Linked DNA regions of Homo sapiens: region 2 is linked to region 1. The links come from fine-mapping of genetic effects on gene expression. A gene starts in region 1. The other region holds a variant in brackets. All regions are shown on one strand. Distances are between the middles of the regions.

Evidence for each region. PIP is the estimated chance that this variant, and not a neighbour inherited with it, causes the effect.
Region 2: its variant is fine-mapped to the expression of RTN4RL2 in thyroid (GTEx, PIP above 0.99).

The regions. Positions count from the first base shown.
Region 1 is chr11:57,450,246-57,464,165 of GRCh38, forward strand. It overlaps RTN4RL2 (reticulon 4 receptor like 2), which reads left to right and starts at 10,283. Exons shown (of 3, transcript NM_178570.3): 1 at 10,283-10,651. The coding sequence starts at 10,621. It also overlaps the pseudogene RNA5SP341 and the pseudogene RN7SKP259. RefSeq lists silencers at 9,131-9,190, 10,290-10,559 and enhancers at 11,995-12,533, 13,623-13,920.
Region 2 is chr11:57,428,818-57,444,799 of GRCh38, forward strand. No RefSeq gene overlaps it. Among named protein-coding and RNA genes, the nearest start is that of SLC43A3, 9.7 kb to the left of the region's middle. The variant A/T (reference allele first, on the strand shown) is at 5,970.

The sequences.
Region 1 (13,920 bases):
GAACCTGGTTAGTATTTGGATGGGAGAAATGATAAATGCTTGAGGTGATAGATATCCTAAATACCCTGTCGAACATTATACATTCTATATATGTAACAAAATATCACACGTATCCCATAAATATGTACAAATATAATGTATCAGTAAAGAGAGGGCTGGGCACGGTGGCTCACATCTGTAATCCCAGCAATTTGGCAGGCCAGGGTGGGAGGATAGCTTGAGGCCAGGAGTTCAAGATCAGCCTGGGCAACATAGCGAGACTCTGTCTCCACAAAAAATAAAAATAAAAACGAATTAGCCAGGCGTGGTGATGCATGCTTATAGTCCCAGCTACTTGGGAGGCTGATGCAGGAGGATTGCTTGAGCCCAGGAGTTTGAGGCTGCAGTGAGCCTACGACTGCACCACTGCACTCTCCAGCCTAGGCAACAGAGGAAGACCATGTTTCTAAAAGAAATAAATTAAATAAAATAAATAAAAATAAAAAGACTGAAAAGCAGAGTGGTAAGAGAAAGGACTTTGGGGCTCAACAGTACTAGCCTTGAACCCTGGCTGTTACTTACCCATCGTGTGATAAGCAAATGCCTTAACCCCTGTGTGCCTCACTTTCTTAACATATAAAATAGAAGTAAAAATCATACCCACTTCAAGGGTCATTATAAAAAGCCAATAGAGATAATGTATATAAAGCTTCTGGAATAATGCCTGGCACACAGTAGGAGTTTAATAACTGGAAATTCATTGTTGTAGTGGGCAGCCTTCTGAATCTGTGTCCTCTTTGTCCACTAATGGCTTTGATCTGGATTTGGCTCAGGCAAGACCTGGGGAAGGGCAGAGACTGAGGGCAACTGGAGGTATAGGGTGGTCTGAGCTTCCCCAGCAGAGTGAGGCTGGGAAAGGTCTGGGAGACAGACCAGGCAGGTGCTGATAAGACCGGAATGGGAGGCTGGAGCATAAGGCAGTTCAGTTTTTCCCAAAGGGGGGTGTACAAAACGATCTCGTATGACTCCTTTATACTGTTAATGTTTTCATTTTATCGCGCACTGAAAAACAAAACCAACATATTTAATGAATGATTCCAAGGGGATTCTTGCTTTTACAAAAAATGCTAAAGTAGGCATTCACATGTTTAAAAATTGAGTTGATTTAAATTTTAAAATTACTAAGTCATAGTACATAATGTGTGAGCCACAGCTATCCCCAAAATCATGATAGCGATACATTAATGACTGAAGTTCTTTAAACATCAACATACAATGCCAATTCCAGAATTCAGCTCAAATTCTGCAATTACACAGGCTGGGGTTGAAACCCAGCTTTTTTGCTAACTGTGTAAAATTAGGCAGGAGGGCTAACCTCGCTGAATCTCAGATGTCTAGTCTGTAAATTGAAGATAATGTTTGTTTTTATCTCACAGAGTTGTTGTGAAGATTCAATAAAATCACAACATGTGAGGATGATCTGGCTGTGACACCTGTCACCCCACTGATCTCCAGAGTTGATTCGGCTGATCAGGCTGGCTGGGCAGGTGTCCCCTTTCTCCCTCACCACTCCGCATGCATTCCTCCCGAAACTGCACACTTGGTCAAAGAGGAAGACCTTTCCTGATAGAGGAGGACCATTCTTCAGTCAAGGGTATATGAGCACCTGTTCTGTCCTGCCAGAATCTCCGAAGGAGCTCTCAGTAAAATCACAAGATTTTATTGTGCATGGTAGCATGAGCCTGTAATCCCAGCTACTCAGGAGGCCGAGCTAGGAGGACTGCTTGAGCCCAGGAGTTTGAGACCAGCCTGCGCAACATAGTGAGACCCTGTCTCAAAAAAAAGAAAGAAAGAAAGAAAAGAATAATAATAGTAATAAATCACCTGTGCAACGTGCTCACTTCTCTCTTTGGAATGTAGTAAGTGTACCTAATAAATGTGATCATTGTAATCATCACAGTGAGCACAGGCTAAAGCATCTTGACTTTATTCTATAAGCAATAAAAGAGGATTTGTTTTTACAGAACTCATTATGTTGTGAAAATAATTTTCCAACATTAACAAAGAACATTCTTCAAGTAAAAGGAAAACCACCCATCATTCTCCCAACCTTCAATAATTTTCAATTTTGCATATTCTCCAGACTTTGTCAACATGAATACTTACTTTACATGGTCGCAATCAGTGTTCATGCAAATTCTTTTATCCTGACTTTTATAAACAAATATGATGTTATAAACCGGTCTCCATGTTTCTGCATATTCTTTATAATTATCATTTTGTGGCTGCATAATATTGCATTGACTATGTTAACTGCAGTTTTCTTAACCATTTCACTGTCTGGGGAAATGGAGGATAATGCCAGGGTCATGCCTGGAGCTTTTTTTTGTCTATTGCATTATATTCTTAAGATCAAATCCCAGCAGTGAGATTAGTCAGTCAAAAAGTAATAATATTTTCAAGGCTCTTGTTATATTTTACTAGATTGTTTTCCAGAGTTTTGCACACTGCTCCCAGAGATGTAGGAACACAGACGTCATCCAACCTTGCCAGTGCTGGGTGATGGTGTTTATAAACTTCTGCTAATTTAATAAGTATGAAATGCTATCCTCACACGGCTTTCATTTCTATCTCTTTGATCATTAACAGGTTGAACTATTTTCCAAGTATTTGTTTACTCTCTGCATACCCTCTTGGGTGAAGTAGTCATCCACTTCCTTCACCTGTTTATCTGTTGAAGTCTTGAGGCTTGTTTTATAAATGTGAGCGAGCACTTCAGAGTCAATAGACATTAATTGCTTCCAGCCAGATTTGGCCACTGAGGCTCCTGAGCAGGGGAATGCATGATCAAAACTACACCCTGGACAGATTAAATTAATTGGAGAAAATGGGCTGAGAGGCAGAGATATGTGTCACTGGCCTACTGTGTTTGATCCTATAGTGGGGGCCTGAACTGGGGCAACGGCCTGAGTCCCCCACTACCAGTAGCAGGAGGCTCCATGTGTCCCCCATATTAGAGCTTGCGGCACTTCCATTTGCCCCACCTCCTACAATACCCCACATACATGTACTCACTCTCCCTTGCAAATCTAGTGGCTTCAACCCACAGAATTTAAGGGGAAAGGAATTGTTCTGTCCTGTTCACTTACTGCAGAAATGAGAAAAGCGTTGTTCACATGGGATCACCTAATGAAGGGATGCCATCCCCAACGGTGCCTATAAGGAAATGGGGGAGGGTTGGAGAGTTGTGCAAAATGCAACAGGGAATCATCAGAGTCTCTTGCCCCATGATAGAGGGTTCTCAAATTAAGAGAGTCTACAGCAACTAATCTCACGGCCACTCTAGGCAGGGCTTCCCAATGCTTCCCCAACCCCACCTCCATCCTAGACTTTACCCACTCTGCTGAACACAGATGTTACCCATAGCACCTTGCACCATGATTGTTTGATTAGCACCTCCCACAGTAGACTGTGTTTCTGATAGGTCAGCAACATTTGCTGAGCACCTACTCTGCAGGGCTGTGCCAGGTGCACAAAATAAACAAAGCCAAAGACAACATGGACCCTGAACTCAGCAAGTTCAGAGTCAAGTGGGATAGGGAGGCTCTCTTCACTGGAAGGTAACTCCAAGAAACAATGGGACTCAACTTTCTAACCAAGAGAACTCCAGGGAGCTAAAATTCTGACTTCTGGTTAAGACTGGTGTGGAGCTTCATTAAAGAAGAAAAGATTCACCCAGACTTGAGTTCATAGCCTGGCTTTGCAGCTTTTAAGTCATGTAACCTTTGATGAAGTTATGTGACCTCTCCACCCAGCTGCCCCTAACACTTGCAGGGGCAGGGCTGGAGTGCAAAGGGAGGCACTGGTACCACAGCCTGGGAGGCACCACCCCACTAGTGCAAGCCGGGCAACCTCTGCCCCCAAGGCATCCCTAGCCTCCCAACTGCAAGCATCAATCTTGCACTTGGAAAGGAACCTCACCTTTGAAATCTAGGTTCAAATTTAGAATGATCCAGCTCCTTGAAGTTCTATACAGAAATACAGCCAGCAGCCAGGCCCGGTGGCTCACGCCTGTAATCCCAGCACTTTGGGAGGCTGAGGTGGGTGGATCACTTGAGGACAGAAGTTCGAGACCAGCCTGACCAACATGGTGAAACCCCGTTTCTACTAAAAATACAAAATTAGCCAGGCATGGTGGTACACGCCTGTAATCCCAGCTACTTGGGAGGCTGAGGCAGGAGAATTGCTTGAACCCAGGAGGCAGAGGTTGAAGTGAGCCAAGATCGTGCCATTGCACTCCAGCCTGGGCAACAAGAGCGAAACTCCATCTCAAAAAAAAACAAAACACACGCAGCTTCCCTCCACTTCCCAACCACAGCTCCATCTCAGACAACAAGGGGCCTCATGTCCATGCACATGAATATCCAACCAACATGTCTAAGGCCCAACCACACCCTCTCCAAACATCTGCCCCTTGGCCACCCTTTGGCCATGGGTTCATGCACTGGCAGAAAGGTAGTTCAGAGAAGAAGCCCACAAAGGGCCGGGAAGTCCACTTGGGCTTTTTGAGATTCCAGGGTCCAGGATAACCTAAGTGTGGTCTAGAAGAGAGATGCAGCTTCTGGGAGGCACATTCCTTGGTCTTAGGGACTTCTTGCCCCCATGGAGGGAAACTGGCTAGATGAGGGCCAAAGCAGAGCCCTCTAAAGCACAGGGCTCAGGGAAGGACTCTTTTTGACCAGATCTAAGAGCAGCACTACCTCTCTGAGCCTGTTTCTCCATCTGTAAGAAGGGGACATTAATAGACTCTCCCCGCTAGAGTTACTCTACATCAGCCAGCACACGTAAGTTCATGACATGAAGCAAGGGCTTAATATATACCCGTTGTACTATAAATAATAGGCCAGGCCTGGTGGCTCACACTTGTAACCCCAGCACTTTGGGAGGCCGAGGAGGATGGATCACAAGGTCAGGAGTTTGAGATCAGCCTGGTGAAACCTCATCTCTACCAAAAATACAAAAATTGGCCGGGTGTGGTGGCGTGCACCTGTAGTCCCAGCTACTTGGGAGGCTGAGGCAGGAGAATTGCTTGAACCCGGGAGGCAGAGTTTGCAGTGAGCCAAGATCTCACCATTGCATTCCAGCCTGGGTGACAGAGCAAGACTGCATCTCAAAATAAATAAATACACACATACATACATACATACATACATACATACATACATACATACATACAATACATGGACAGGGACCCTAAAAATGAGACAGGGAAAGAGAAAAACATGTTCTGACAACCTTGCCCTTTATACTAATTTAGGTTTTCTTGCCTGTTTTAGAAAGGGCCTGGACAGGAGCCCTGTTCCCCTCAGGCCAGGCAGAACAAGGTGTGGAACTCACTGTGGAAGGGTTCTGGGTGACAAGTGCAGCCCCGTCCCTCCACCTCCCAGCACAGTAGGCAGCACGTGTCTCCATTGACTGGCTCAGGAGCAGGCCTGGTGACCAGTGGGAGAGCTGAGGAGCCCAGGGTGGGGTCTGAAGGAATCCCTAGAAAATCTGATTTTCCCCCAGGGCCCACATCACGTGCCCAGAGCTGGGAAAGTGGAGGCAGCATGGGATCTAGCTGAGAGGCTCCATTTTTGGTAGCTTCTAGTTTGGGAGTCACAGAGACACCTGGATGATACGAAGATGTAGCTTTGCAGGACTCTCTAGAACATGGAGTCCAAGATATTCCCTTCAATGATGGGACACTGAAGCCCACAGAGGAGAGGTCTGTCCCAGTTACTCAGCCATTCGGAGGCAGAGACCAGGCTAGAACTCAGGACTTTTAATTTGGACCAGGATTCCTTTTACCACAGTGGGCAGCCCTAGCAAGTGCCAGGTAGGGTGGAACTGTGAAGGTCATCCGAGGGGTAGTACACGTGGGTAGGAAGTCATATCTAAGAACTGACCCCCAGACCTGGCTCTGCCACTCACTCCTTATGAGACCACAGGTGCTGGGTGCAGTGGTTCACACCTGCAATCCCAGCACTTTGGGAGGCCAAGGCAGGCAGATTGCTTGATTCCAGGAGTTCGAGACCAGCCTGGGAAACATAGTGAGACCCCCACCTCTACCAAAATTAGCCAGGCGTGGTGGTGTCTGCCTGTAGTCCCAGCTACTTGGGAGGCTGAGGTGGGAGGACTGCTTGAGCCTGGGAGGCGGAGGTTGCGGTGAGCCAGGATCATGCCACTGCACACCAGCCTGGATGACAGAGTGAGACAGAATGACACACTGTCTCAAAATAAATAAATAAATGACAGCAGATCATCATTTTTCTTTCTGCCTCTAGACTGCAATGCCTATTTCTCCAGGTAGTCACTAGGATAAAAGTAAAAATAATATTATCAGCATTTACCAAATACAGGGTCAGCTACTCTGTTATGTTCTTTCATGCTTTGTTTCTTTTAAGCCTCAAACAACTCTATGAGCTGGGAACAAGTATCGTCCTTCTTCCTCCCATCTTATTTATTTATTTATCTATGTATTTATCTATCTATTCATTTATTTATTTATTTTGAGACAAGGTCCTTCTAAGTCACCAGGGATGGCCTCAAACTTGAGCTAGGAACTAGTGTCACCACCCCCCAATTTCTTTTATTGATTGATTGATTGATTGACTGACTGGTTAATTTTGAGGCAGGGGTCTCGCTAAGTCGACAGGGCTGGTCTTGAACTCCTAGTCTTAAGCAATCCGCCCGCCTCAGCCTCCCAAATTGCTGGGATTACCAACACGAGCCACCATGCCCAGCCCCTCCCATCTTCTGAATAGGAAAACTGGGGTTTGAAAAGGTAAGCGACTTGCCCAAGGTCCCCTCCCTAGCTAGAGAGCTTCAGAGCCAGGGCACAAACCCATCAAAGCCTGTGCTCTCGCCCATTGAGCCACCGGACCTCGTACACTAACCGCCAAGTGTTCTACACAGTGAAGGTGACAAAGAGGTGAAGGGAAGAGCCAGGGAGGTTCTGTGGACTCACTCGGTGGGTATGCCCAGAGGGAAGGGGGATCTTGGGTGGCACATTGAGAGTAGCTGCGCTGTTAGTAAGTGAGAACTCGGAAGTCCAGACTCATCCAGTCTGTGCCAATAAACCCCTCCTTCTACCTGGTCTCCTTTCCAAAGCCAGCTGTTCTCCAGACAATGGGGTGGGCGGGGGCGGGTGTCCTCCTCCTTCTCAGGGAAAATCCGACGCTGAGCCCATCTCCAGAGATCTTGGCTTCCCGTGGGGCTGCAGATCCACCTAGAGCCACCAGAGGGCGGGCCAGCACTGCGGCCAAGGCTTGAAGACCCAGCACACCAAAGCCCGGCCAAGCCTCCAGCCCAGTGTCCAAGAGTCCAGCCAGAGGCCGAGTCCTCGATCTCAAAATGTCTAACTGCAGAAGCCCAACTCATGTTCAGGCATGATGTGTCTGATTCTACTGGGACAATCATTGCCACCAAAGAATTACTGCCAAAATAGTAACGACATTAGCTACCTACCACCCCTCCACACACCAACACACCTCATTTTACCAAGCACTTTCTCATGCCTGGGGTGCCTGGAGACTTAATGCAGCCTCGCGATGACCGGGTAGCCTCACCGTACAGATGAGGAAACTGAGGCACAAGGAAGGGGAGTACATTGTCTAGGGTCACCTGGAGAACTCTGATCTCCAGACTCAAATTTCCAATTCGTCCCCCCTCCCCCCAACCCTAACCGGAGCTAGGTGGGGTGGGGACAGCAAATGTGGATGGGGGGAGGTAAGAGGGGTCAGAGTGCTCTACAGAGAAGACCAAATGCATTGTGGCACCTACTGTAAAATGAGACCAGCCAGCCACCCACCCACCAGCCAGCCACCTAAAAGTCTTCAGTGGGCACCTGCTGGAAACACGACAATGGATGACACGAGTTCCCTGCCCTCAAAAAGCTGGTAGTCTAGTTGGGGGTGGAGGGGGTGAGTCAGCAGATAATTATGGGAAACCGTGACACCTGTATAAGGGGCGGGGATGAGCAGAGGGGCTGCGACTGCCTGGAGCCAGGGATTCCCGGACGGGGCTTCCCTTTCCTCGCAGCTCGTCCCAGGAGGAGGAGCTCCCCCCCAGCTTCGGGGTTCCGCCTGCCTTGGGGGCCCGGGGTCCCCTCCCACCCCTCCCCGAAGAGCGCGGGCCCCGGGAACCGATGACAGCACACCTGAGTCAGCCCGCCGCCCACCCGCCCCTCAGCGTCTGTCTCCGCATCTTGTGATATTTCGCTCCCCGGGAGCCAGCCCCACTGCGCTCCGGAGGCAGCTCGGCAAACAAACCCAGCGACAGATTGTGCCGCGGCTCATTCCGGGGAAGGACGCCAAACCCCACCCTGCTACCCCCAACACTCCCTCCCCGCCGCCGCCTCCAGGCCCTCCCCCCAGGCGCAGGCCCTAGTCGGGGTGGGTCCTGGGGAAACGCAGGGTCCTGTCCTGCCTCCTGGAAATAGGGGGAGCCCTGGGTGAGGGAAGACGGGAGCCCCAGAGACTTTTCTTTCTGTTTCTACCTGATCCGAAAACGAGAGGGGCGGGAAAGGAAATTTAGGGGCACAGAGAGGAGCTGGGGGGCCGAGAAGGTCCGAAAATGGAACCAGCAGGGGGCACCCGAGAGCCGAGGTGCCCACGGGCCGGGAGCCTGGGAATGAAACTGGGGAAGAGGGGGAGAGAAAGGGAGGCAGAGACACCGAGACACACAGAGACGAGAGACAGAGACGCAGGGAGCCCCGCGGGGAGGAGGAGAGAGACGAAGACACAGAGAGACAGTGAGAAAGACAGAAGACCGGGCAGGGAAACAGACGAGTAGAGACAGAAAAGGTCCGAGAGAGAGTGAGGGAGGGAGGGAACAGAGAGACAGAGACCACGAAATATGAGTAAGAGTCGGGGGAGAAAACCAGAGAAATCGAATGAGAACGCGAGAAGAACGAGAGACCGTGGAGGGAGCAGAGAATGAATGGGAAGAATAAGACCAACATTTATCAAGAGCCGACTGTATGCCAGGCACTGCATTGGACCCTGGCACGGATAGGAAAGGAGGAGCCGCGGCGCGGGCAGCGGGGCGAGGGGCTTCTGTGCTCGCGGGAGCGGCAGCCCAGGGGGCTCAGCAGCCCCGGCACCGCCGCACCTGAGGCTCCAGCAGCCCCAACCCCGCCAGCGCTGCCTGGCCACCGTACCCGAAGCGGCTCCCCCGAGGGCCCCGAGCCTATCCTACGCCGGGGCGGCTCCGCGGACGCGCCGGGCCGAGTCAAGACCTGGGTCAACCGCCCTGCAGCCTTTGTAGGGAAGTGCCTAGGTGATGGGTCTGCTGATACCGCCTGTGACCAGGCCATGAAGGGCCAGAGGGGCTCCAGTGAGACCATAATCCGCCCCTCTTTAAAAGGGGGTAGAGGAAGTTCACGCGAAGCCAACAGTCTTCTCCCCAGCTTTGGGTCCTCTCCTGCACCCCCGCGGGAGATAAGGTCTCCCCTCCCGGACACATCATACATACACAAAAAAACGCACACACTCGCACGCGCGCCCATCTCGCACCCGCTTGTAAATGCACTAAGGGGCATACACACACCGGGCACATATTTCTTTCCACCCATCCCCAAGATCGCAAGCGCAAAACCTCGCACAGCCTCACGTTTCCCACCAGCTCAGACATGCACGCTGGCGGACTTTCAGCGGCTCACCCGTGTGCACACTCACGTGCCCCCCCCCCCGCTTCCCCAAGCCCGTACAAAGGGTAACGGGCAAGCATCCTGAGTCACACCTGCACAAGCATCCTTGCGCGCACGTGCACGCTCATATGCACTCGATCTTGCACGCACAAACTCTTGCATATACTATTCTTATAGTCGCACACTGGGCTTGAGGTCTGGGAGTGGAAGGAAAAGTGGAATCTTGGAGCTGTCCCAGGGGACAGAAATGCTGGAGGCTGGGACACTGGCGCGAGGGACGCGGCTGGGGGCGGGGGAGGGGGTGACCCAGAAGCTCATCTTCTCCTGGAAAGTTGGGAGGGGGGAACAGGACAAGTCCACGGCGTTCCTCTAAACTACCGCATTCCCCCAAGAAGGGATTTCTCTAGAAGAGTGGCGCCGCGAGGACGATCGAACACAGTCCTCCGGGTCGCTTAAGCGGGGGGGAGGGGGGCGGGGTGGAGGGGGTTAGAAAGCCGCTCCCGCCTCCTAGTGGTCGAGAAAGGGTTAAGTCGGCAAGCCAGCAAACGAGGGAGGAGCCAGCGAGTGCGGGAAGGAGTGGGGGTGGTTGGGAAGAGCTTCCTCGCTGTCCCCACTCTCCCTCGGCTAGCAGCCTGGGCACACGGACAGACGGACTGACGGACTCTCGAGCGGACAGCGCAGCTAGCGGGGCGCGGGCGCTGGGCGTCGACGGCCAGCCCCAGCCTTCCCCGCCCCGTCGCGCCCCGCCCCGTCCCGTCGGGGCCGATGGCTCCTCCCGAGGCCCGCAGCCCGGGCGGCGCAGGGTAGAGCGCCGCGGCCCGGCCACGCAGCCCGGGGACTCCCGGGCCCTCCCGGAGCCCCGCGGGGTCCCCGCCGTGCATCCGGCGGGCTCAGGGAGCGAGTGGGAGCGCCCTCCCCCCGCTGCCCCCTCCCCCGAGCATCGAGACAAGATGCTGCCCGGGCTCAGGCGCCTGCTGCAAGGTAAGAACGCCAGCGGCGGGAGAGCGGAGGGCATCCTGGGGAGAGAAGCAGGGCGTCCCCTCTTTCAGGGATTGAGGGTGGGGCAGTTGGGGAGGTGGGGTAACCTGGGGAAGGGGAAAAGCTCAGCGCTGGGGCCGCGCCCCCGCCGCCAGGGCTGTTCTCAGCAGGAGGGCACTTGGCTGGGAGCCCGCGGGCGCGTGCGAGGAGCTCGTGACCGAGGTGGGACGCAGGGGGCAGGTGGACCCGGCCCGGAGCGGGGAGGGAGGCTCAGGTTCCGCTGTCCCCGCTCCACCTGCTCCGGGGGACGCTGAGGACTCGGGCCGGCTGGGGAAGCGCCGACTCAGCAACTCCTCCTGCCCGGTGCCTCAGCACTTTCTGGCCACCTGGGAAGACAGGAGATGTGGGTAGGGGGCTGTCTGGGGAGGTAGGAGGCGCAGAGGGAAATCCAAGTGGCCCTCTCTGGTAGGAGAGATGGAGGGCGCTAGAAAGAGGATAGTTCTACTGATTGAGTGACAGATAAGGGTGTGGGCCAGAGACTGGGGGTGGGGTGGGGAGGGGTCAGGGGGAGAGGGATAGGAAGGAGAACTCAAAGATGGAGAAAGTGGTGAGGGAAGCTCAAAGGAGGAGGGAGATGGAGCGGGGGAGGGGGAGAAGGAATAAAGGTTAGATGGGAAAAGCGTGGAGGGAAGTGGGACCCAGGTGAAGACCAAGGAAGAGGGAAGGAGAGGAAAGACCAGATCAGGGGAGGGATGGGAAGAAGACTATGGACAGGGACCCAGAATCCTGGGATGGAGGTAGCGGGAAAGAGAATCAGGACTGGGACCCTGGGGACTGGAATGGAAAAGGAGAATGGAAAGATCAGAAACCAGAGAAGGATGGGGATGGTGACTAGAGAAGGGGTATCAGGAACCGGCGAAGAGGGTTGGAGACAGGGAACCATGGATGGGAGAGGGGCTGGAGAGGAGGGAAGAGGAGGAGGAAGAGAAAGGCTGAGAGAGAGGGACTGGGGATTGGGGGTGCTGCCCAGGGATGAGACAAAGAGGCTTCTGGTAACCACTTCCACGTGGGAAGCCCTCCATTCCCAAAGCGCCTGCCTGCCACATTTCTTCTCTCAGGGAGTGGCTGGTGGGCCAGATGGGGGGTGCTTTGAGCTCAGGGCCCTGGGGGTGGCTGTGAGGGACAGAGGGTGAGGACTTTGGAAGGGGAGTGACAGCCTCCGAGGGTGGGCAAACAGGCTGGCTCCTGTGCTGCCATTTATTTATCCGGCCTGGACGTTGGATTCTGCAGCCGCTGCCGCCACCACGGTGGCTGCTTATTTTGGGGTGTTACATTCTGGCAGAGTGAGAAGCTGTTTGCAGCAGCTCTAAACCTCCGTCACCCGCGTCAGTGCCTCCCCAGGCCCCTGCGTCACTGGCATCACCACCACCTCCATCCCACTCCTCAGCTCCCACCTCCTCAGCCCCTGCCCCCTCAGCATCTGCCCGCAGGCCCCAGCCCTTCCCTGAAGCAGCCCGTTGGGTGTGGAGCCCTTGCTTCTCGTCTGGGACCCTGTGCCCCTCCTTCCAGAGCGAGAGGCCTCTGCTGCCTTTCCAGGGAGCATCCTTTCCTGGGACCACTCTGCACCAGCGACTCTGCCCTGTGGGTGGGTAGCCTGGATCCTGCCCCCTACTTTGGGTCCAGTTTTCTTCTCCTCAAGTTCCTTCTTCTACAGGGGCCTCCGGCCCAAAGAGTGGCCTGTGGGCTGAGAACTTTGTTTCTGAGCCTTGGTACTCCAAGGTTTGATAGCCAGAGTCCTGGACAGTGGTCCCTCAGTGAACAGATACTTTTGGCTCTGGACACTTCAGCCTTCCGGGATCAATACCATGTTCTGGCCTCTCTTGGCTCCCTCCCCTGGTCAGTTCTGGCCATATATTCTGGACAGGGGTCATCTCTTCTTGACTCCCACATGTAATCACTACTCTAGAACAACCGCAACTGGAAGCCTAGGAGGTGAAAGTTGCAGAGAGAGCTGGAGTCCCTTCCTTGCCTTGACCCTGAATAGCCAAACAGACTCAGCATTGTGGCTGGCCCAGCCCTAGGCACCTGGGTGCAATTTCTCTCCTGTCTTTACCTCAAGGGCAGTGTCTCACACATTCAGGCGTGGTTTCTGCGGAGGATGTGGCCACCTCTTAAAGAAAGATCAGAGTGTCTCTCTGACATGGGCTTGATGTCCCTCTTTTCCAATCTGGGTTCCACCTTGTACTAGCTGCATGACCTGAGGCCACTGTGTCATGTTTCTGGGGCTCCCTTCCTTCATCTGCAAATTGGGGGCCACAATATTGACCTCCAGGGGATTATGTGTGTTGTGTTCAATGTATAAAGAAGTTAACCTGTACAAATGCAGTGCCTAGGACAAAATAGGTGCTTCTTGGTTTCCTCCTACCCTGCTGTACTCTCCCCTGCAGCTCTAGCCATCCCCTGCTGACTTTAGAGGAGGGGGTGAGCAGAGAGGGTGGGGGAGGCTGCTACAAAGGGCTTTCCTCTGTCCATGAAGTAGTGGAGGGATGAAATGAAGGCTTCTGAGAAAGACAATGAAGGCGAGCTGTAGAGACCTGGTCAGGAGGCCTGGGGTGCTCAGAAACTCACACTTCCCCTCCCCAGCCCTCAATGGTGTTACCTATGATGTGAGGGGTCGGCTCTAGGTGGCCACCGAGGTATCCCCCTTTCCAGCTCTGATACTCTGTGCATCTTGCCCCAGTCTCCACCGGGAATTCACAAAATGAAGGCCAGGAGTGGAGCCGTGGTCCTCGGGAGAGACAGGAGGCCTGGGCCTGGAGGGAAGGAGTGGTGGTGCTGAGGAGGAGTGAGAACAGGGGGTGGGGAAGGGACGTGGCAAGAAAGAAAAGGGCACACACTGGGCAGGGCAGGGACTGAGGGCGGGGGAGAGAGGGAAAGGCACAGCTCTCTAGTCCCCCAACCCCCCAGTCCCACCACCTCTGCCCTGGAGTGCTCGCTCCAGCCCCAGCAGGCCTGGGGCAGTGAAGCCCAGAGCCCCCTCCCCTCCCCTCCTCCTTGCCTCCAGTGAGAGCCGCTGCGTGAATTATGGATGAGCTCCTTGGGTTACAGCTGCTTTGCACGGCAGTGGCAAGGGCCAGAAATGGCAACAGAGTCACTGTTATGCAGCAGCTGTTATGGAGGAGCCCCCAGCACGGGGTCGCTCTTCAGAGAGCCTGCAGGGACCACTATCATGGGCTGGGGGAGGTGAGCCCTGGTTGGGGGAGACATGGGAA
Region 2 (15,982 bases), 20 kb before region 1:
AGGACTGAAGCACGGGACACGGGGCAGGTCGTCCAGGGTTCTGTCCACCTTATCTTGTTACCTCTCTTGACTCTTAGAGCCTCCACTCCACATCTCCCATCAATGTCTGCAGAAGACGTGGCCTCCACTAACACAAGTCTTACTGAACTGATGGGACAGGAAATTAGAATATCCTCTGAACCATTCCCATGTTCTTTGGTTCGAATTCCAGCAGCTAGAAAAGGCAGATGCTATTCTGATCACTCTCCTGCGTGGCTCCAATGAGGATTAATGAGTAACATCAGAGAGAGAAGTGATTATAATAAGGTCTGACGGTGCACCCGATGTCTTCATCCTTTTCTCTTCGCCTCCTTCCTCATCATCTCACACCTTTTTTTTTTTAATTGACTGATTGGTTCAACAAATACATGTGGTACCTCAGGCTCTGTGCCAAGTGCCGGGATTCGTAGAGAAGAGATTCAGTGCCTGCTCTCAAGGGGCTCATTCTCTTGTGGGAGAGACAGACAAAGAAACCCAAGATTTCTGGAGTGTGGGAATGGTCTTCCAGGCAGATGCTAGCACAGCACATTGAAAGGCACGGAACCTCAACAAAACAATAACATTTAGGAACCAGCTAGAGCACAGGGTGGTGAAGAAAGTGGAAAGATTTGAGGCCAGCGTCGCCATCTAAGTGAGGGCATTAAGAATTCAGCCCACATCAATCAATCATGTCCTATTGATTTCACCCCTTAATATCTCTCCTATCTATCCGTGGCCACTGCTCTATGCAGACACTCATCATCTCTCACAGAGGCATCATCTGCTTCCAAGCCATCGCCATTCTCCTGCAAGAGTTTATTTCCATGGTTCCCACTGGATGGCTTCACTTAACTGCTCAAAACCCTTCTGAGGTCCAGTCAACTGGCTGGTAAGGACCAGTCCAGGGTCTGGGGATGCCAGCCATGAGACATTGCTTTGAGGGGAAGAGGGAGCATAGAACTGGATCTCCTGCATCCTACTGCCCAAGTACCAATGCTGGAGGTGGTTTTCCTTCCCATCATCAGCAAGTCTGGATATCCAGGATCCACCCTATGGATGTTTTTATGGACAGAGTGGGAAGATGGATATGTTTAGGTTAGGGAAAGAGGGTTTGCCAAAGAGGGCAGTATAAGTGAGCTGCACTCCATCATTCCCCTGGCACAAACAATGGCTAGTATCCTCTAGTCCTCAAGAGCACCACCTTCCAATGCAGTCCCTGCCTGTCCACAGACCTCTCTCCTCAAACTTCCTCTGAACAACCTCAGCGAGGGCAATTGCCACTCTCTGGGCAGAGTCCAGATATTCTCTCCTACCCTCTGACATCACTTTCTAAATTTGTATATGTAGATAAACTCTGAGCCATTCACATAAAGGGCTTTGATTTCGGATACGCCAAACACATAAACAAACAAACATAAGCTTTCCTTTCACAATGGGCTCATGTAAATTAAAATGTTTGGTTTTCCACCTACGGTCTTGAAAGGGGTTTCTACAGCCTGTTTTGGAAGTCAGAAAGCAAAAGGTAAATGCAAACATCATTTCACCTGCAGAGAAAATTCTAATCCTCTTGAGGCAGTGCCAAAAATAATACAAGCACACTGCTATCGAGCCAATTACTGGTATCTCTGAGCTTCCGTCTCCTCATCTATAAAATTGGAATCGAGCTGTATGGATTAAAGATAATGTATGAAAACTGCCCAATTAGTACACTATTAATAAATAGCAGCTACTGTTGTTAACAAATATTATTGACTTACTGGAAAACAAAGAGGAAATAAAGTCACATTTAGGGAGAATTTCAAAGTGTTCCTAACCTAAAAAAGAAATAAATTAGGGGGAAAACCACTAAGTAATGGGTGAGCTCAGTTTACCTTGCTTAAGAAGTCCCACCCTAGAGAACTGATCTCTAGATGACACCCAAATGCACTCAGTACAACCCCCCAAGACTGTCTGGGCTTAAGGCAGGGGCTTGGATTGTCCTGTAAGCTGTGGGAAGTCTGTTCATGAGCCACAGTAGACAGGAAGGGGATGGAGTCTTAGAGCTGGCTCTTCAGGGTATCTCCTAGTGTGTTCAAAGCAGTTCTCAGGAGGGTGGGGAACTACTACATAGCCAAGTAAATATGAGGCCTCCTTGCTCTGGGGAGACCTTTCTCTTTAACAGAGGTGAATCTGAAAGGATACCCAAAGAGGCACTGGAGGGTGGGGGCCACTCTGGCCCCTCAGAGCAGCCAGCTCAGCTTCAGTGGATGCTAGAGGCAGCAGAGGATCAGCCTGGATCAGCCTCCCTTTCACCATGCAGAAAACAGAGCTCCCCCACCAGACCAGATACTGGAAGCACTGGGCCAGGCCTAAGAGAAAGCAGAGCCCCAAGCCCCACCACACCAGGGCTTATGAGGCTACTGCTACCCACCCTCCCAAGCCCCAGCTCCACTTCTATGTTCATCAAGCAACTGTTTACTGGTAACTGCACTTCCCGATAGACTTTGCTAGAAAGGAATGCCTCAGTGCACTGACAATATCTAAACCTGCAACTCTAAGGACTAGGCTGGGGAACACTGTGTCAACATGGAGGCACGTCCTACCCCTGAGAAGAAAAATAAGGAATATCAATAATACCTGCTGGGCACTGAGCACTGACTATGTATCTGATTCGAAGCGCTTTTTGCTTAATCTGTCACTGAATCTCACGATAGGTGTTGTTATTAGCATCTATTATCTGGGCCAACTGAGGCCTAGAGGGACGAAGCAACTCCCCCAACATCACCAGGTAGCAGTGTCAGGACTGGGATAGAAACCTGATGCTCTGACTGAAACTAATGCTTTTTTTTTTTTTTTTTTTTTTTTTTTTGAGACAGCATCTCACTCTGTCACCAAGGCTGGAGTGAAATGGTGTGATCTCAGTTCACTGCAGCCTCCACTTCCCAGGTTCAAGTGATTCTCCTGCCTCAGCCTCCCGAGTAGCTGGGATTACAGGCGTGCACCACCATGCCCAGCTAATTTTTTTGCATTTTTTGTAGAGATGGGGTTTCGCCATGTTGGCCAGACTGGTCTCAAACTCCTGGGCTCAAGTGTTCTGCCTGCCTTGGCCCCACAAAGTGCTAGGATTACAGGCGTGAGCCACCATGCCCAGCCAGCTGATGCTCTTAATCTGTGCCCTACCCAGCCTTCCTGGGAGGCTTCCCAAGAGCTACACAGAGCATGAGTTCTGGAATCGGGTTGATGGGGGTACCAGTTATTACTAATAGGAATGAAGATGGGTAATTCTTTCAGACAGCACCCTTGATTAAAACAAGAGAGTAGTGCTGCCTCTCTGTGATTCTGTGTCTCCCTGCCCTGCTCACACAGACACCACACCCACCCACACGCATGATCATGAAAAGAGGAAATGGATCCAGGAGAAGGAGACGACTCCTGAGTGAAAACAACGGGGTTTTTCACATTGAGAGCTTTGCCCAACACCCCAAAGATGAAAAGAGCAGGAAACTGCTGGGGCCGATTGAACACTGGACTTTTGTTGTGGAAAAAGGCAAAGGGAAGCCGGAAGAGACTGGAACAGTTTCCATGGTGCTGGAGGATGGGGAAGTGGGTAGGGATTAGCTGGAGGGAGAAGGAGAAGCTGGGGTGGAGGGGAACCTCCACTTGCCAGGAGAGCACATGTAGGATGGGAACCCCAGATGATACTCAAGGCATGGCATTAGACCAGAAGCAAGTCTGTGGTGAAATTAGGGAAGGCTCCACTGCGGACTGTAGACAGAGCACTGGACAAGGAAGTGGGAGACCCAGGGTCCAGTCCTGGCTCTGGAGCCCCCTGGGTGGGCTGCCCCGGGCACCTTTCTCTCTTGGGGCCTCCATTCCTACCTCTGTGAAGCGAGTGCTGAACCTCTCTTAGCCCTGACTTGCTGAAATGCTGGGACTCTGTACAGAGGCTGACATTAAGCAGGGATCTGTCGTGGGGTGCTGCAATGTTCCTCCAGATGCTGCACGGGAGAGGGCAGAAAAGGCCTATATGGTGAGTCCGCCCTGGGAGCCTCTGCTTGGAAGCTGAAGTGGCCTGAGAGTGACTCAGAAACCACGGAAGTTCCCGGGGCTGATGGGTTCTTATAGATTGTACATGCAGCTCTCCTCGTGGGCTGCAAAACCGCAAGATGGGCTGTGACCACTCTCAAGGAAAGAGCCCTATCTGCAAAAAGCATTCTGCCCTCCAGGTCTTAAAGCAAACACAGACTCAATCCTTATTCCTTTTAAGACAAAATTGCCTCAGGGGCATCAGGGAGGCAGCAGGCCTCAAATGTGTGCCTTTCTAGAATTCTCAATGAAAGCACCCTTTTGGGTATTAATAATGACAACAGTAATGACAGTCATTTACTGAGTGCTGCTTTTGGGACAGGCATTGGGCTAAGAGCTATATGTAATATATATTATTATTTGATGCCCACAGCCACCCCATAAGGAGGCGGAGGTACTATCATTATGCCAACTTTAAAGATGAAGAAACTGAGGCCTCAAGAGATGAAGTAACTTGGCCAAGTCACTCAGCCAGTAAATGGGAAGAGATAGACTTCCCAGTATCCAGAGCCCATGTTTTCACCATTATGCTGAAGTACCTCTTTTCCTGTGCCAATGTGATCTGCCTCCAGGAATCCTGTCTTGATGTTCCCTTCCCCATACAGAAGTCCTCTCTGTGTCCTCTTCAGCCTGATAGTATATCTTTTCATACCATTCTTTGGACATCTCTGTTATACTACTCCAATGGTGTTCCCTCCCCTACCCCTCCCTGGGAGCTTAGTTGTTGTGATTAAGTATAGGGGAAATGACCCACACTAAACAAACTCATAAGAGACTGATTGATAAACCTGAAATGCAATTTATTAATTAACACTGAGAAATGAAACCACCCAGCAGATGGGAATCCTAAGGCTGACTGGTCAGCACAATCTCTTTCAGGAAGGACAGGCTTTTGGGAAAGGAAATCAATACCAGAAGGTTCTTTGTTGAGTACAAAGTCAGAGGGAAGGGAGTTGATGGATTGACACATAGGTGAAGCTTGACATACCTCTATAAAGCCTCCATCCTGCCAAGGATCAGAATATCCAAGGCAGGGAGCCATCTGGGTGTCCTCTCCTTTGGACAGTGCTGGATTTTTCTGGATCCTATGAAGATCTTACCTTTCTGGCTGCATTTATCATGATTGTGGAAGGCTTTTTGTTTCCTTGTTTGCTTAGATTAATTTCTGCGTATTTAATAGAACTGAAAGGCAATTTCCCATTGAGACCCACTGAAGAGGAATAATCAATACATACTAGTTGTGTTGCCCTTTGCAGAGAATTCACTTCTGTGTTGTCACTGTATCCTCATGCTTCCTTATAATGGAGGGACAGAGATGGTAAAAACATGGACTTGGAAGCCAGACCGTCTGGGTTTGAATCCTGGCTCTGTTACTTATAAGCTCTGCAACCTCGGGCAGATTACCTAAGTCAGTTTCCCCTTCTCTGAATTGGGGATAATAATAGCACCCACCTCAACATCTGTCAAGAGGATTCAATGAGGGAATACACATAAAGTGCTCAGAACAGTGTCTGCCATCTGGTAAGCAGTCAATACTTGTTAGCGATGATTAATAATTCATTTCATAGATGAAAAAACTGAAGCCTAGAGAGATAAAAAGTCAACTAAGATCATACAGCCAGTAAGTGGTGAAGATATCATTGAAAATCAAACTGGCATCCTTTAAGCACTAAAGTCTTTCCACAGACTAGTTTCTTACCCATTCGCTTTCATAACAAGCTGAAGGAGAGCTTGTTTAAAAATCAGGTATATCCACCCACCGGAATGGGTAAAATTTAAAAGAATGAAAATATCAAGGTGGAGCTTGGACGCAGAACAACTGGAGGGAGTAAGCAGTAAGAACCACTTTGGAAAAGTGTCTGGCAGTTTCGAAATAAGTTAAACAA[A/T]CACTTAATGAATCAGCCAAGTTCAACCAGGGATGTGGAACCACTCTCTCTGTGGATTGCTACAGGGATTTGGCCTTACTCAATTGTAGGAGGTAGTTAAGCAATCTTGTAAGGCTATTATCTTTGCATGTCATGTTGCAGTTGAATTCCACAGGTCAGGCAACTGGGAAAGGAAGATGGATATAAAGTGGGCAAGACAGAGCAAACTGAGCCCCATAAGTATGAACTGGAACCCCATGAGGATGAACTGAAGCCTTTAAATCCACATCAGCTTTTGTTGTCTCTGTCGTTGTTAATGTATTTTGCAGAAGCCCGGGTTCATTGCATGGAGCTAACCACATACACACCTGCCCCAACAGTAGGCAACGCCAAAGGAGAAGCCAGCTCCATGCCAACCAGGTGTACCAGCAGTTCAGTCACAACATGTGTGAGCCAGAAACCGACTCCTGCTTCCCTTCCACCCTCCAGATTCCCTGAAGAGACACCCTCATGTTCCGCTCTAACCAGAAATACACAAAAAAGGGAATTCAACATAACCAAGTCAGCACATTACAAAGCCAACACACCTACCTTATGATCAGGTAATTCCACCCAAGATATTTACATAAGCGAAATGAGTGCATACGCTCACCAGAAGTAGTGTACAAGAATATCCATAGCAACTTTATTCATAACAGCCAGAACCTGGTAACAGCCCAAATGCCCACCGATAGGAATACGGATAAGCAAATTGTCCCGTAGTCACACGACGGAATACTGCATCACAACAAAAAGAACCAACCTTTCATACACACAGTGTAGATTAATTTCGCAGATGTGATATTGAGCAAAATAAACCAGATGCCAAAAAGTACACAATGTATATATATTTTTTCTTTTTCCTTTTTTTTTTTGAGACAGAGTCTTACTCTGTCGCCCAGGCTGGAGTGCAATGGTGCGATCTCGGCTCACTGCAAGCTCTGCCTCCCGGGTTCACACCATTCTCTTGCCTCAGCCTCCCAAGTAACTGGGACTACAAGAGCCCGCCACCATGCCTGGCTAATTTTTTTTTCTTTCTTTTTTTGTATTTTTAGTAGAGACAGGGTTTCACCGTGTTAGCCAGGATGGTCTCCATCTCCTGACCTCGTGATCCGCCCGCCTTGGCCTCCCAAAGTGCTGGGATTACAGGCTTGAGCCACCGCGCCCGGCCATATTTTTTCTTTTTTGAGGCAGAATCTCACTCTGTCACCTAGGCTGCAGTGCAGTGGTGCAATCACGGCTCACTTCAGCCTCAACCTCCCAGGCTCAAGAGATTCTCCTCTCTCAGCGTCTCAAATAGCTAAGACTACAGGCACGCACCACCATGACCAGCTAATTTATTTTTTTTGTAGAGTCGGGGGTCTCACTATGTTGTCCAGAGTAGTCTCCAACTCCTGGGCTCAAGTGATACTCCCGTCTCGGCCTCCCAAAGTGCTGAGATTACAGGCATGAGTCATCATGCCTGACAATGTATATCTGTGTGAAGCTCAAGAATGGGCAAAACTAATTGATAGAAAAGTTAGAATAGTGGTTAATTACCACCGGAGCAGGAGAGGTGTGGGTCTGTTACCTCTGCTGAGGAGGGGTATGATGGAGTCTGAGTTCCTGGAATGTGTCTTGATATAGGTGGTAGTTATATAGCTGTATAGATGTGTAAAATTTCACTGGGCTGTACGCTTAAGGTCTGTGCCTGTAACAGTATGTATGACATACTTTAATTTTTTTTTTTTTTTTTTTGAGACAGAGTCTCCCTCTGTTGCCCAGGCTGGAGTGCAGTGGCACAATCTTGGCTTACTGCAACCTCTGCCTCCCAGGTTCAAGCAATTCTTCTGACTCAGCCTTCCGAATAGCTGGGACTACAGGTGTCTGCCACCATGCCTGGCTAATTTTTGTATTGTTAGTAGAGACGGGGTTTCACCATGTGGCCAGGCTGGTCTCAAACTCCTGACCTCGTGATCCTCCCACCTCGGCCTCCCAAAGTGCTGGGATTACAGGCATGAGCCACCGCGCCCAGCCCCGATATACTTTAATTTTAAAATGGATTTTAGATTCCTGAGCTCTACCCACAGAGATAACTGATGGTCCGGGTGCAGTTCAGGGGTGACTATTGGGAGAGCTCTGAACTGTGCCTTCTTTCTTCCCAAGTTTGCTCCCCATTCTGTATGGTCAGTCATTCTTGAATTCACCCTAAAACCAAATTTTTCAAGGATGGAGAACAGCCAACTTTAATCTTACTTCTCTGGGATTTGAAAAAGCAAATTCCTGTTCATAAAGGTACCCACAGTGTGGGACGTCATCAAACAGAGCTTCTTCCTAATAACGGCGGCGGTGTTGTAAGGTGTGTTAACAATCTCAGAACTTGAACCGCTCTTGGTTTTAAGATGCCAAGTAGCTTAATGGTTTCCTATCACTAGGAATTGGAGCATCTCTGTTTTCATAATACTTCCCCACATCCCAAACACCACTCACTTGCCCTCTCCTAGTGTGAACAGAACCCAGCCCAGGCCTGGAACTGCTGTCTCCATTTTGAGAGGCTGAATCTTGTAAGGACTGGGGGTCCTGACTCCCTAAGTGGAACAGTGTCCTCCCTGGGGGAAAACTTATGAAGATCATAAGAGTCCTAGACACAAACGGCCCAAGCTTCCACAAAATGCACATTATCCCCTTTCCTCTCATTTAAAACACAGATGTGGCCGAGCGCAGTGGCTCACACCTATAATACCAGCACTTTGGGAGGCCGAGGCTAGCAGATCACTTGAGGTCAGGATTTCAAGACAAGCCTGGCCAACACTGTGAAACCCTGTCTCTACTAAAATTGCAAAAATCAGCTGGGTGTGGTGGTGTACACCTGTAATCCCAGCTACTCGGGAGGCTGAGGCAGGAGAATCACTTGAACCCAGGAGGCGGAGATTGCAGTGAACTGAGACCGCGCCACTGCACTCCAGCCTGGGCGACAGAGCAAGACTCTGCCAAAAAAAAAAAAAATTAAATTCAAAATAAAATAAAAGAAAACACAGATGTGCCTATGGAGGAAAGGGCACTAATATGAACTCAAGACCCTGCTGGCTCCTCCCTATACCCCTCCCGGAGCCTCAGTTTCCATTCTTCATAGCTGAACATGGGCTGTGGGATGCTGATTCCTGTTGGAAAGAAAGGGAAGGGACAGAATAATCACTCCTATTTACACGGCTCTCTAGAGTTTGCAAAGCAAAGCACTTCCACATCCCCTCCCTGAGCCCCCCCCAACTCCATTGCCACCCCCACGCTCCAGCCCCCGCAAGCCTGAAGTCATGTAGGAAGCGTCCTTTAGGCTGGGCTTGGCCTTGCTTTTCGTTTGGTTTCGGAGTCCCCGGTGAGAAGCAGATACCTCCAAGGAGTAACTAGTCAGGTATCATCCCACACCTGGTAAGTATTTGGGATCAGGGGAAGTGATACCTAAGAGGCAGCACAGAGAAATTAAGTGATTAGGCACACGCCTAGCGCCAGAGCAGGTGAGTGGCGCAGGGATGGGGAGTGATACCCAGACTCCATGTTGCAGTCAGAGGCCCAAGGCTTTTGGAAGAGCAGACCCAGGTTAATTATGTGCAATCTCATAGTGCCATTAGTTGACAAGTCAGAGACAGAGCCTTTCTTTCTTCTACCAAAGCCAGGCAGCTAGGGCAGCCAGAACACCTGGGCTGCAGCAAGAAGGAAGCCTTCCTGTATGCTCCACCCTCAACCGTGGAGCAGCTGGACAGGCCTCCCTACACTGCAGCTTGGGCTGGTTGTGGCTGGACTTGTCTAACCCTCTAACTTGTGCACCTCAAAGTCAGGGCTCCTCAATATTTTCTCTACCCCTGACAGGGTCCACCATTAAGCCATATTAAGGGACAAAGGAGAGACCTGAAGTCAAATCTGAAAATTTCAGATAAAGCAAGCCACCCAACAAAGAGGTCCAAAGTACATGATGGGATTGGAGAAATGCTGACAAGCGAAACTCGGAGAAGCCAAGCTGGCAGATTGATCTGGAAAGGTCAACAGGAACGAACGGCTATAATGAGGCTCAGTCTGTACATCACCAAGCCAATGGATTGGGTCCAGCGAGGATGCAAGATGTATTGAGTGTGGTGTGCCTCTTCTGCACACACCTGCGGCTCCCTGGGATTCGGGATGGGGAGGGACTGAGAGCTGTGACAAACCAGGTCAGGCCACAGACTCTGGATTTAGGACAATCAAAAAGTACACATACCTGGGGGAAGTGTCCAGGGAGGCTGGAAACTGACCCTGAGGCAAGACTGGAGGTGTCTAGGCCCACTGCTGCGGGCACTGGCTTGACAGTGCTTTTGAGAAAAACACAAAGTCTACACTGTTTGTCGTTTGTTTTTGTTTTTGTTTTGAGAGGTAGTCTGGCTCTGTTGCCAAGAGGCCAGAGTGCAGTGGCCCAATTTCAGCTCGCTGCAACCTCCGCCTCCTGGGTTCATGTGATTCTCCTGCCTCAGCCTCCCGAATAGCTGGGATTACAGGCATGCACCACCACGCCTGGCTAATTTTTGTATTTTGTAGAGACGAGGTTTCACCATGTTGGCCAGGCTAGTCTCAAACTCATGACCTCAAGTGATCCGCCACCTTGGCCTCCCAAAGTGCTGGGATTACAGGCGTGAGCCACCACACTCGTCCCACACTGTTTTTTGTCCTGGCCCTGACTCACTTGTCCTGATTTCTCAAGAGAGGGACTTTCAGAAAATGAAAAAAAAGAGAACTTTACTAAAGATCTTCAGTATTGGTCAGAAGAGAACCCATCCTCTCTCAGCAAGGATGGGAGACGGCGAAGAGATACGCTTCATGGGAGAGGGACAGCAGAGCATCAGCAGGAAGGGGAGCGACAATGTCCCCAAGACCACAGACACCTGTCAGGTGTGTTTGGGAGGGCCTGGCCCCCACCAAGTCTACAGAGTTGAGGCTTGCTGGTCGAAGTCATGATCTTTGTCCAAGCCTTGGATGGTCACCCTTTCTCCATAAACCTCCGTCCCACACTGAAACACTCCCTGTGTGTCTTTGAACAAGTCCTTCCTCCTCTGAGCCCCATCTCAACCAAAAAAGAGAAATGAACTTGCACTGAGCTCCCTCCCAGGGCTCCATGAACATCTCATGAGATTCGAACCCCTAGCTCTGGGCTATCACAGCCCCATCCTTTATGCATTCCATCGTCATCGTAGGATGTAAGCCCGAGAGCCCTGGCACTAAATGAGAGCTACTCACTGAGAACAGCTTGGTGCTGAGACCCTGGGGCATGCAGAGGGCCAGGAAGTGGCCAAGGCAGGGCAGAGCCACTTGTTTTCCCTGAGATGGTCTGCCTGGGCCCTAGCATTTCCATGACTGTCGTATCAATGCTGAGATCCCAGAGGTCCTGGGAGGAGCCATTGTTCTCCCTTTACTAAAGTGACCTGAAACCTTGGACAGGCTGCCAGTGCTCCCTGGCCTTTTAATTTTTTTTTAATTGTTATTATTATTATTTTTTTTTTGAGATGGAGTCTCGCTGTCTCCCAGGCTGGAGTGCAGTGGTGCGATCTCAGCTCACTGCACCCTCTGCCCCCCGGGTTCAAGACATTCTCATGCCTCAGCCTCCCGAGTAGCTGGAATTACAGATGTGAGCCACCATGCCCAGTTAATTTTTGTATCGGGTTTCACCATATTGGCCAGGCTGGTCTCAAACTCCCAATCACAGGTGATCCACCCACCTCAGCCTCCAAAAGTGCTGGGATTACAGGAGTGAGCCACCGCACACAGCCTATTCATTCAGTTTTGAGACAGGATCTCGCTTTGTCTCCTAGGTTGGAGTACAGTGGCACAATCATGGCGCACTGCAGCGTCCACCTCCTAGGCTCAAGCAATCCTTACCCCAGCCTCTTGAGTAGCTGAGACTGCAGATGCATACCACCACACCCAGCTAATTTTTAAAAGCTTTTTACAGGGATGGAGTCTTGCTATGTTGCTCAGGCTGGTCTCAAACTCCTGAGCTCTACCGATTTTCCCCCATCAGCCTCTCAAAGCCCTGGGATTACAAGTGTGAGCCACCACACCCAGCCTTCCTCAGCCTTTCTGCTCCTCACTGCCCTGTAGCAGAGTCCACTGGGTCCTCAGTGCCCAGCTGAGCTTGTGCAGGAAGCCCCAGCTCTGGGTCTTACTGCCTCACCCCTAACCAACTCCTACCATACTTCAGGGCATGGCTCAAATGTCACTTCCCAAAGGACATTGTTCCTGATCACCAGACTGGCACAAGTACTCTCCCGTGGCCCATACTTCTTCATCATAGAATTTATCCCTGCTTATAATTACATGTTTGTGTTTGGCTTACTTGATTTCTGAGCTTTCCCCCCATCATGCACGTACATAAACACACACATACACATAGACACTGTTAAAACAAATGAAAACCGAGGTCAGGCCTGCAGATCCCTTAAGCAAACAAAACTAGTCAGGCTTCATAAGTGACCTAAACCTTGCTTAACTTGAAAACATAAGTGGCCTGGGCCTATCTTCCACTTCCACACTAGAAGGTTTTCAGGCTCACACCTGTAATCCCAGCCCTTTGGGAGGCCAAAGCAGGAGAATTGATTGAGCCCAGGAGTTTGAGACAAACCTGAGCAACATAGAAAGACCCCCCCTCTACAAAAAATAAAAGATAAAAAATAATTAGCTGAGCATGGTGGCTCACACCTGTAGTCTCAGTTACTGGGAAGGCTGAGGCAGGAGGGTCCCTTGAGCCCAGGAGTTGGAGGCTGCAGTGAGCTATGGTTGTGCCATTGCACTCCAGCCTTGATGACAGAGTGAGAATCTGTCTCTTAAAAAAAAAAAAATTAAACAACCAAAAAAACGTAATGGCTGGGCATGGTGGCTCATGCCTGTAATCCCAGCATGTTGGGAGGCCAAGGCGGGCAGATCACCTGAGGTCAGGAGTTCGAGACCAGCCTAGCCAACATGGCAAAACCCCATCTCTTAATAAAAATACAAAAAAATTAGCCAGGCGTGGTGGTGCGTGCCTGTAGTCCTAACTACTCAGGAGGCTAAGGCCGGAGAATCGATTGAACCGGGGAGGTAGATGTCGCAGTGTGCCGAGATTGCGCCACTGCACTCCAGCCTGGGTGACAAAGCAAGACCCTGTATCAAAAGAAAAAAAAATTTGAGCTATTTCTTGTAAATGTTTATACATGTGTTGCTTAACAACAGGAATGCACTCAGAGAAATGTGTCATTAGGTGATTTTATCTTTATGCAAACATGATAGAGTGTACAAACTAGACAGTATAGACGACTACACACGTAGGCAACATGGTATAGCCTAGGCTACAAACCCATACATAGTACTGTACTGATTACTGTAGGCAGTTGTAACACAATGGTAAGCATTTGTGTAGCTAATCATAGAAAAGGTGCAGTAAAAATATAGTATAAAATATTAAAAAATGGTTCACCTATATAGGGCACTTATCATGCATGCAGCTTGCAGGACTGGCAGTTGCTCTGGGTGAGTGAGTGAGTGAGTAGTAAGTGAATGTGAAGGTCTAGGACATTGCTGTACACTACTGGAGGCTTTATAAACACTGTATACTGGCTGGGCATGGTGGCTCATGCCTGCAATCCCAGCACTTTGGGAGGCCGAGGTGGGTGGATCACCTGAGGTCAGGAATTCTAGACCAGCCTGGCCAACATGGTTCTCTTTAGTTGAGAACCCTGTCTCTACTAAAAATACAAAAATTAGCCGAGTGTGGTGGTGCATGCCTGTAATCCCAGCTACTCAGGAGGCTGAGGCAGGAGAATCTCTTGAACCTGGGAGGTGGAGGTTGCATTTAGCCCAGATTGCACCATTGCACTCCAGCCTGGGTCAAAGAGCAAAATTCCATTTCAAAAAAAAAATGCAAAGAAACTAGCCATGCATGGTGGCGGGTGCCTATAATCCCAGCTACTTGGGAGGCTGAGGCAGGAGAATCGCTTGAACCCAGGAGACAGAGCTTGCCGTGAGCCAAGATCATGCCATTGCACTCCAGCCTGGGCAACAAGAGTGAAACTCCATTTCAAAAAAATAAAAAATAAATAAAATAAAAACAATGTACACTTAGACTACACTAAGTTTATACAAAGATATTTTTCTTTGTTCGATAAAAAAATTAACCCTAGCTTACTTAGCTTTTTTACTTTATAAACTTTTAAATTTTTAAAAACTTTTGACTGTTTTGTAATAACACTTGGCTTGAAATACAAACATTGAACAGCTACACAAAAATATTTTCTTTCTTTATATCCTTATTCTTTAAGATTTTTTTTTCTTTTGAGACAGGGTTTCACTCTGTCACCCAAGCTGGAGTGCAGTGGCACAATCACTGCTCACTGCAGCCTCAACCACCTGGGGTCAAGTGATCCTCCCACCTCAGCCCCTCGATTAGCTGGAACTATAGCCGCATGCCACCACACCCGGCTAATTTTTGTATTTTTTGTAGAGATGGGGTTTCACCATGTTGCCCAGGCTGGTCTTGAACTCCTGAGCTCAAGCAATCCACCCACCTTGGCCTCCCCGAATGGTGGGATTACAGGTGTGAGCCATTGTTCCTGGGCAGCTTTTTTCTATTTAAAAATTTTTGTATTTTATTTTAACTTTTTAAACTTTCTTGTTAAAAGCAAAGACACAAACACACACATTAGCCTAGGCCTACACTGGGTCCTATCATCAATATCACTGTCTTCCACTTCCACACTAGAAGGTTTTCAGGGACAATAATATGCACGGAGCTGTCATCTCCTATGATAACAATGTCTTCTGGAATATCTGTTGAAGGACCTGCCCGAGGCTGTTTGACAGTTAGCTTTTTTTTATAAGTATAAGGCGTACACTCTAAAATAATTATAAATAGGCCATGCGTGGTGGCTCACGCCTGTAATCCCAGCACTTTGGGAAGCCGAGGCGGGGTGATCACTTGAGGTCAGTAGTTCAAGACCAGCCTGGCCAACATGGTGAAACCCCATCTCTACTAAAAATACAAAACATATTAGCAGGGTGTCATGGTGCACACCTGTAATCCCAGCTACTCAGGAGACTGAGGCAGGAGAATCACTTGAACCCAGGAAGCGGAGGTTGCGGTGAGCCAAGATCGCGCCACTGCACTCCAGCCTGGGTGACAGAATGAGACTCTGTCTCAAAAATAAAATAAAGATAAATAATATAGTAAATATATAAACCAGTAATATAGTTATGTATTATCATTATCAGATATTATGTACTATATATAACTGTATGTGCTATTCTTTTATATCACTGGCAGTGCAGTAGGTGTGTTTACACCAGCATTGCCACAAACATATAACTAATGCATTGCGCTACAACATCAGGACCACTACACCATAGACAATAGGAATGTTTCAGCTCCATTATAATCTTATGGGACTACCACTGTATATGTGGTCTGTCCTTGACCAAAATGTCATTATGGGGCACTTAACTGTATTAAAGGAAAACAAAACTTAAGCTTAACCAATCAGAAACAGCCAACAAACTTAAAATTATAGAACTAGGAACTTTCAAATGGAATAGACCAAATAAGGCAACTGTATAACTGTAACCAATCAAATAACGTTTCGAGCCAGGGTCTCACTCTGTTGACCAGGCTGGAGTGCAGTGGCAAAATCACAGCTCACTGCAGCCTTGACCTTCTGCAAGTCAAGTGATCCTCCCACCTTGGCCTCCCAAAGTTTTATTAGTTGTGAGTCATTGTGCCCAGCCCAAATAATTTCTTTATCATGCTTCCACATTTCCGTCGTAAATACTGGTCTCTGACGCTTTGTCATCTGAGCGGTCTCACCACTGCTCTATCCTGTCCTTATGCATCACCCCATACCAGCTCCCTTACTCTCATAACTGCCTTATGAACTATGTGTTATCCCCGTTCTAGAAATAAGGAAATAAAGTCCTAGAGAGGTGAAAGAACTTGGGCTCAGTGAAGCCATTGAAATACGTCATGACTGAAA